Linked DNA regions of Homo sapiens. The protein of the gene in region 2 interacts with the protein of the main gene of each other region in a pairwise test. Each region holds a gene or a part of one and is shown on either strand. Other genes may lie near its edges. The genes, in order: CLEC12B and LSMEM2.

Evidence for each region.
Region 1: the proteins of LSMEM2 (region 2) and CLEC12B interact in binary tests that used the Homo sapiens proteins (3 or more experiments, as listed by UniProt).

What each region holds. Positions count from the first base shown.
Region 1 is NC_000012.12:10,016,301-10,019,454, forward strand, and holds the end of CLEC12B (C-type lectin domain family 12 member B), read left to right. Parts: exon of another isoform or gene 1-1,649; intron 1,650-2,030; coding exon 2,031-2,181; 3' UTR 2,182-2,496; downstream 2,497-3,154. UniProt on the Homo sapiens protein: Inhibitory receptor postulated to negatively regulate immune and non-immune functions. Upon phosphorylation, recruits SH2 domain-containing PTPN6 and PTPN11 phosphatases to its ITIM motif and antagonizes activation signals.
Region 2 is NC_000003.12:50,277,421-50,281,934, reverse strand, and holds the start of LSMEM2 (leucine-rich single-pass membrane protein 2), read right to left. Parts: upstream 2,849-4,514; 5' UTR 2,822-2,848; coding exon 2,764-2,821; intron 1-2,763.

The DNA.
Region 1 (3,154 bases), on a different chromosome or scaffold from region 2:
ATATACGGCAAGTGTCTTTTATGAATTAAAATGAACTAAACCTTCCACTTCAGGGTTTGGATGAAACTATTTAAAGGACAAATAGAATATATAACACTTGGAAAATTTCAATTTTTTTAACTATTTAAAGTTATGAAAAAATAGACGTCAACAAAAATGTGTAAGGGGATATTAGGTTTGCTAAATTCTTTCACAGACTATAAAACAAAAAATTTTGAGGAACACCTCTCATCATAACTACATTTAAATGAAACAACTGTATTAATATTTTAAATATAATAGTATTTTTCTATTAGATAAAATTTAAGATCTTTGGCATCTTAATGGATTTTTAAACTTTTTATTGATACATAAGAGATGTATATGTTTTGGGGTATATGTGATAATTTGATACATTCAGATAGTGTGTAAAGATCAAATAAGTGGAATTGGGATATCGATCACTTTAAATATTTATCTTTTCTTTATGCTAGGAGCATTCAAATTATTATTTTCTCATTATTGTGAAATGTACAGTAGATTATTGTTAATTGTATTCACCCTAATAATCTATGAAACACTAGGTCTTACTTCTTCTATCTAACAGAATATTTGTATTCATAATGGCTTTTTATCTACCTTCCTCCCCCAACAAATCATTATCCACCCCCCTCCCTCCTGTTTCACTCTTTAAAGCATGTTGTCAACGTTTTCTTAAACTGAATAATAATCACTCATCTTCTGTCAAAGATGCCATGCTTCAGCTGTGACTCAGCAGTTCCTTAAATCACAAACAATGGTAGGTCTATTATTTTCTCCCTGGATACACTTTATCTTCATCCATTTCCCAATGTTTTGTCATGGCTATTTCTACTCAAACACTAATCCCCCATTCTCTAATCACCATTATTAATCATATCAAGTCAATTAGTTTGGTTTCACACTAATAATAATGACAAAAAGCACATGCAGAGTAATACACAAACAAAAAAAGTGACAGTTACTTTTTTGTGACAAGAGCAATATTGGGTATGAACTGATTAATATTAATCTGAGGTGTTGCTACTAGACTGAGGGTTTCCAGGAGTAGTACTATGACATCATGTAAACACATTCAGTTTTCATGTTGGAATCTAAGATGTGTCCCTTCTCCCAAAGGGATTTTAATCATTCTTGGCCTCTCTACTCACTCTTAATCAAAGTGTGGAGGAGGTGGCCCCCACAGCAGGGTTTGGAACCTACAGACCCTGGCCCCTGAGACATGCAGCTGTCAGACAAGCCAGCATGTCAAACACAGGTTAGAGAGACTGAGCTTCCAGATTGCATAGCCATTTCCTTGACTACTGAGTAAAGGCCAAGGCTAAGATTTAGTAAGCCTAGCCCTGAAGCAAGCAAAGAATATGGCAGTGTAATGCAGGTCATTTAGAAAAAAACAATGTTGGGCACAAAGAAAATTTAGATCTGACAAGTATAATTTTCTAAAGACATTATTTCAGGATTAACATCAATTTCTTAGCAGAGGAAATGAATACTATTGTCAGAACCATATCTATATAGTCAATCATTTCCTCTTTTAACGTCTGTCTTGTTCTCTTTTTACCCACCACATATGTATAACTATGTGAAAAATTATATTTGTGCATAATAAAATGTGATAACTTTTTACAACAGAATGTGATTTTATTTTTATGTTTTTCTTCATAAGGTCCCAAAGAACTTCAAGTACTTCTAATATAAGCTGAACTGATTAGATTTCATTAATGGAATTACATATTTATGAAGGAAATACAAATTCTCAGTCCAGGATTTAAGTATTTCTCTTAAAGAATTCTACCTGGGATTATGATTAACTTAAAATAAAGAACCCAGATGTGCCAGCTCTGGGCAGATTTTGTGCCAGCTTTAGGCAGCTTCAGATTTTGAAGCTTTGTGGAGGCAGAAGTCTCTCCATATTCAGATACATGACATTGGCTGTAAGAGCAACTGAGGGCACTAAATAGTGATCACGTTTCAAATACAGAATTTATAATTAATTTTAAATTAATTTTCAGATTTAGTACTAAAGAACTTGACCAGATCAATGGATCCAAAGGATGTGCTTATTTTCAAAAAGGAAATATTTATATTTCTCGCTGTAGTGCTGAAATTTTTTGGATTTGCGAGAAGACAGCTGCCCCAGTGAAGACTGAGGATTTGGATTAGTATGCTTCTTCCAAATTCTCCAAGAAGTAAGAGACTTGTGAGTAAGCTCATATGAGGAAAGAGGAAACTACGGTACCAGAGCCAAACCAGCTTTTAAAATGACTGTGTATTTACATTATCAGACAAATGAACTTGTTTAACAGAACATTCTCCAGTTCCTTGTCTGACGTCTTCTGATTTGATGTTATTATTCGGTCTTAAAATTATACCTGGGGACAAAGGGGAATAGCCATACTATGGCCCTATGATTGTCTCAGAATCATTTCACTGAATTTCTTTGCTTTCTCAAATAAAGACTCCTTTCTTTCATTATTATTATACTGTCACGTGTGCACTAGGGTGATATTTAAATATTTAAAAACTAGGGTGATATTTAAATATTTAAAAACACAGGCCACAGCACTAGAACAAGGTCCAAGAGATGCCTGTTGTGATAGTTGCTGGGTCATGTGGAGGTCTGGGGGATCCCAGGCTAAGGGTCCTGGTAGCTGGGGCTGCAGCACTGTATCAACTGATTTGGAAATATTTTATTTTAGCAAATGTTTGTACCACTGTGAACCAGCTAAGTGTCGCCCTGCACTTGCAAAATAGCTTTTCTTCTCCAACAACCCTATGAAAATAAGCGTTCTTATTAATCTTTAAAATTTAGATAATTTATAATCTAGGCATAATAATTTAATATTTACTTTTTTTTGAGACACTGTCTCACTCTGTTGCCTAGGCTGTAGTATTGTGATGTGATTGGCTCACTGCAGCCTCAATCTCCTGGGCTCAATCGATCCCTCCCACCTCAGCCTCCCGAATACCTGGGACCACAGGCATGCAACACCATGCTCAGCTAATTTTTGTATTTTTTTGTAGAGACGAGGTTTCACCATGTTGCCCAGGCTGGTCTCAAACACCTAGGCTCAAGCTATCTGCCAGCCTCAGCCTCCCAAAATCCTGGGATTACAGGTGTGAGCCACTGCCCCTG
Region 2 (4,514 bases):
GCTTGCAGTGATCCAAGCTCAAGCCACTGCACTCCAGCCTGGGCGACAGAGCTAGACCTCGTCTCAAAAAACAAAAAAGTAATTAAAGATTAGTTTGGTGTGGTGGCATGCTTCTGTGGTCCCAGCTTCTCAGGAGGCTGAGGTGGGAGGGTTGCTTGAGTCCAGGAAGTCAAGGCTGCAGTGAGCTGTGATCATGCCATTGTACTCCAGCCTGGGCAACAGAGTGAGACCCTATCTCCAAAAAAAAAAAAAAAAAAAAAAAAATTCCCTGCTGCCGGGCGCAGTGGCTCACACCTATAATCCCAGCACTTTGGGAGGCCAAGGCAAGTGGATCACAAGGTCAGGAGTTTGAGACCAGCCTGGCCAATATGGTGAAACCCCGTCTCTACCAAAAATATTTAAAAATTAGCCAGGTATGGTGGCAGGCGCCTGTAGTCCCAGCTACTTGGGAGGCTGAGACAGGAGAATCACTTGAACCTGGGAGGCAGAGGTTGCAGTGAGCAGAGATCGTGCCACTGCACTCCACCCGGGGCGACAGAGCAAGACTCCGTCTCAGAAAAAAAAAAAAAAAAAAGGGCCGGGCGCAGTGGCCCATGCCTGTAATCCCAGCACTTTGGAAGGCCGAGGTGGGCAGGTCACGAGGTCAGGAGATCGAGACCATCCTGGCTAACACAGTGAAACCCCGTCTCTACTAAAAAATTCAAAACAAAAATTAGCTGGGCATGGTGGCTGGCGCCTGTAGTCCCAGCTACTCGGGAGGCTGAGGCAGGAGAATGGCATGAACCCGGGAGGCAGAGCTTGCAATGAGCCAAGATCGTGCCACTGCACTCCAGCCTGGGCGACAGAGCAAGACTCTGTCTCAAAAAAAAAAAAAAATTTCCCTCTTTGTACTTTGTTGTGCTTTTCTCACACTTTCTAAATTGAATGTGAATTGTTTATTACAGGAAAAACACACAGTAAATGTTATTGTTAAGATCCCAAAAGAGGGTAGGCACAGTGGCTTATGCCTCTAATCCCAGCACTTTGAAAGGCCAAGGTGGCTGGCCGGGCGCGGTAGCTCACACCTGTAATCCCAGCACTTTGGGAGGCCGAAGTGGGTGGATCACGAGGTCAGAAGATCGAGACCATGCCGGCTAACACAGTGAAACCCCATCTCTACTAAAAATACAAAAAATTAGCCAGGCGTAGTGGCGGGCTCCTGTAGTCCCAGCTACTCAGGAGGCTGAGGCAGGAGAATGGCGTGAACCCGGAAGGCGGAGCTTGCAGTGAGCTGAGATCGCGCCACTGCACTCCAGCCTGGGCGACAGAGCGAGACTCCATCTCAAAAAAAAAAAAAAAAGAAAAGAAAGGCCAAGGTGGGAGGATTGGATTGGTTGAGGCCAGGAGTTCAAGACCAGGGAGACCCTTCTCTACACACACACATGCATGAAAGTAAACATTTCCCCCTACCAGGGGCAAGGCCCCTCTCCTGCAATGTTGAAAATGTTGGCAGTGGCTCACGCCTGTAATCCCAACAATTTGGGAGGCCAAGGTGGGTGGATCACCTGAGGTCAGGAGTTTGAGACCAGCCTGGCCAACACGGTGAAACCTTGTCTCTACTAAAAATACAAAAATTAGCCGGGCATGGTAGCACATGCCTGTAATCCCAGCTACTTGGGAGCCTGAGACAGGAGAATAGCTTGAATCTGGGAGGCAGAGGTTGCAGTGAGCCGAGACCGCACCACTGCACTCCAGCCTGGGTGACAAAAAAAAAAAAAGTTGAGGCCAGGCGCGGTGGCTCACCCCTGTAATCCCAACACTTTGGGAGGCTGAGGTGGGTGGCTTACGAGGTCAGGAGTTCAAGACCAGCCTGGCCAAGATGGTGAACCCCCGTCTCTACTAAAAATACAAAAATTAGCTAGGCATGGTGGCAGGCGCCTGTAATCCCAGCTACTTGGGAGGCTGAGGCAGAGAATTGCTTGAATCTGGGAGGCGGAGGTTGCAGTGAGCCGAGATCACGCCACTGTACTCCGGCCTGGGTGACAGAGCGAGATTCCATCTCAAAAAAAAAAAAAAAGTTGAAAATGTGATAAGAGGAGCTTGCTAGCTGGGCCATGCTCTGTCATGGGCCATAACATGGAGCCATGGAGCAGACAGTCCTACGTCCTGGCCAGTACTGGACCTGTAGCTTCCTAGATTCCTGCTGCCCTGGCCCCTCTGAGCATCAGTACTTCTTATATGCAGTGGTGCAGTTAGGTGAGTGGCCACCAAGCTCTTGACTAGCTGAGTCTCTGTCTGACCAGGCCAAGGGACCCCCAACCCTAGGCAGTTGGGGATATTTAGACCCAAGTCAGGGGAGGCCAGAGGCCTAACTACTTTTCAGTCCATGGGACAGGTACCCAAATGCTTTCTGGAACCACTACCCACCCCAATCCCAGCTTCCTTCCTTAAGAGCTGAACCGGCCAGGCAGCTGACCGGATGCCCACACCCACCTGAGCACAGCCTGTAGTTGACCCACTCCTAACTGGGTAGCTTCTCCCATCCCTCCTTGATGTCCCCAGCAGGGGAAACTGAAGCAGGGCCTGAGGTGACAAGGGGCTCCAGGCATGGCAGGCTTTTCCTCCCTGCACAGGGGGCAGGTCCTTTTACTGGAGCTGGAGCATGAAAATGGGTAACTAACTACTCAAGACAGTGAGGTCAGTGGGACAGAGGGTGGGTCTCTCCATGGTCCACAAGGTCACAGGACTGAGGCCTTGCCCTCCCTCATGGTCACCCTCTCCTACCTTCTTGGGTCTCCTCAGGCATGGCAAGCAGTGGGCAGTCGGGGGCCAATGATGGCATCCAGTAGCAGGACTGGACAAATGCAGCAGTGGCTCCTTTGTGAGCCCAGGGAAGGCCTGGCTGCCTCCCAGCCTTGGCCTAAAATAGGCCTGAGCTCAGCCCACTGGGCTATATTTAGAGGGGGCAGCCCTCAGCCATGGGAAGGGGCAGAGTGATCCACGTGGGCCAGCCTGAACTATCTACCTGGTGAGGGAGCCAGCCAGGAGCCTGCCTCCACTAGTCCAGGTGCCCAGGGACCTTCAAGGGGAAGCACACCTCCCCCATACATCCAGAATGGCCACTCCAGGCTCAGCAAGGCCCCATGTGGCAGCCAAGACAGACAAAGGAAGCCTGTGCATCTCTATTTGGCCACCCCTCTACCCCTGCAGACTCCTACCCACAGCCCAGTCATCTCTCCTCCCAGCAAACACAGCAGCCTCCACTGCATGACCTGCTAGCACACAATGCTATTGTTGTGTGTGTCTTATAGAGGGTGATGGACAACTGAATCCCAATGCCATGAGGGCTCTGATAGCTTCACAAGTGGGCAGATACACCAACAGCACCCATGCTGGCCAGTGGGTGGACCTAGGTTGGAGGCTGGTTCATTTGTTACTAAGCTTGCAACCTTAGGTAAAGGGTCTCCCCTCTCTGAACTCAGTTTGCTCATGTGTAAAGTCGGAATAACAGTGGCTCCTCCCTGGCAGTGTACACTGAGAACAACATCTGGAGCATTTAGCACAATCCACGGTTTTGGTCTTCCCCTGCTCCCATCTCCACAAGGGCAGACAGGTCCCATAAGGTTGTGTAAGGATGCGCATCACTGCTTACCTTGAAAGGAGGAGGTGGTCCAGCTTCCAGCTTTCCCTCTGTGGTTGGATCCCTGTGCCCTTCCTTCCCAGTGGGGGCAAAGCAAGACTGTGGGCTCTACTTCCTACACACCTCAAACCTGTCACTCCGTTGTCTCACACTGGCCTCCCTGATGTTCCTCAAAGTCAACAAGCTTGTTACCACCTCAGGGGCTTGGTGGTGGCTGTTCCCTCCTGGAATGCTCTGCTCCCAGATAGCCCTGTGGCCAGCCCCGTCTTGTCAGCGAACTCAAATGCCACCCCTTCAGTGAGGCCTTCTGTGTACATTCTTTTCCACATCACCCAGTTTTCTTTTCTTTGAGACAGAGTCTCGCTCTGTTGCCCAGGCTGGAGTGCAGTGGGGCGATCTCGGCTCACTGCAACCTCTGCCTCCCTGGTTCAAGCAATTATCTTACCTCAGCCTCCTGAGTAGCTGGGATTAAAGGCGCGTGCCATCACACCCACCTAAGTTTTGTATTTTTAGTAGAGACAGGGTTTCACCATGTTGGTCAGGCTGGTCTTGAACTCCTGACTTCATGATCCGACTGCTTCGGCCTCCCAAAATGCTGGGATTACAGGCGTGAGCCACTGCGCCCGGTCCAGTTTTATTTTCTTCCTAGCACTTAGTCCTGAAGTTATATTATGCACAATGTACCCTGCGTGTCACTATTCCCAAAGGCCCTACAGAACCTGTTCAGTCACGCGGAACCACCTTTTTTTTTTTTTTTTTTTTTTTTTTTGGAGTCTCGCTCTGTCGCCCAGGCTGGAGTGCAGCGGCGAGATCTAGGCTCATTGCAACCTCCACCTCCCAGGTTCAAGCAATTCTCCTGCCTCAGCCTCCTGAGTAGCTAGGATTACAGGCGCCC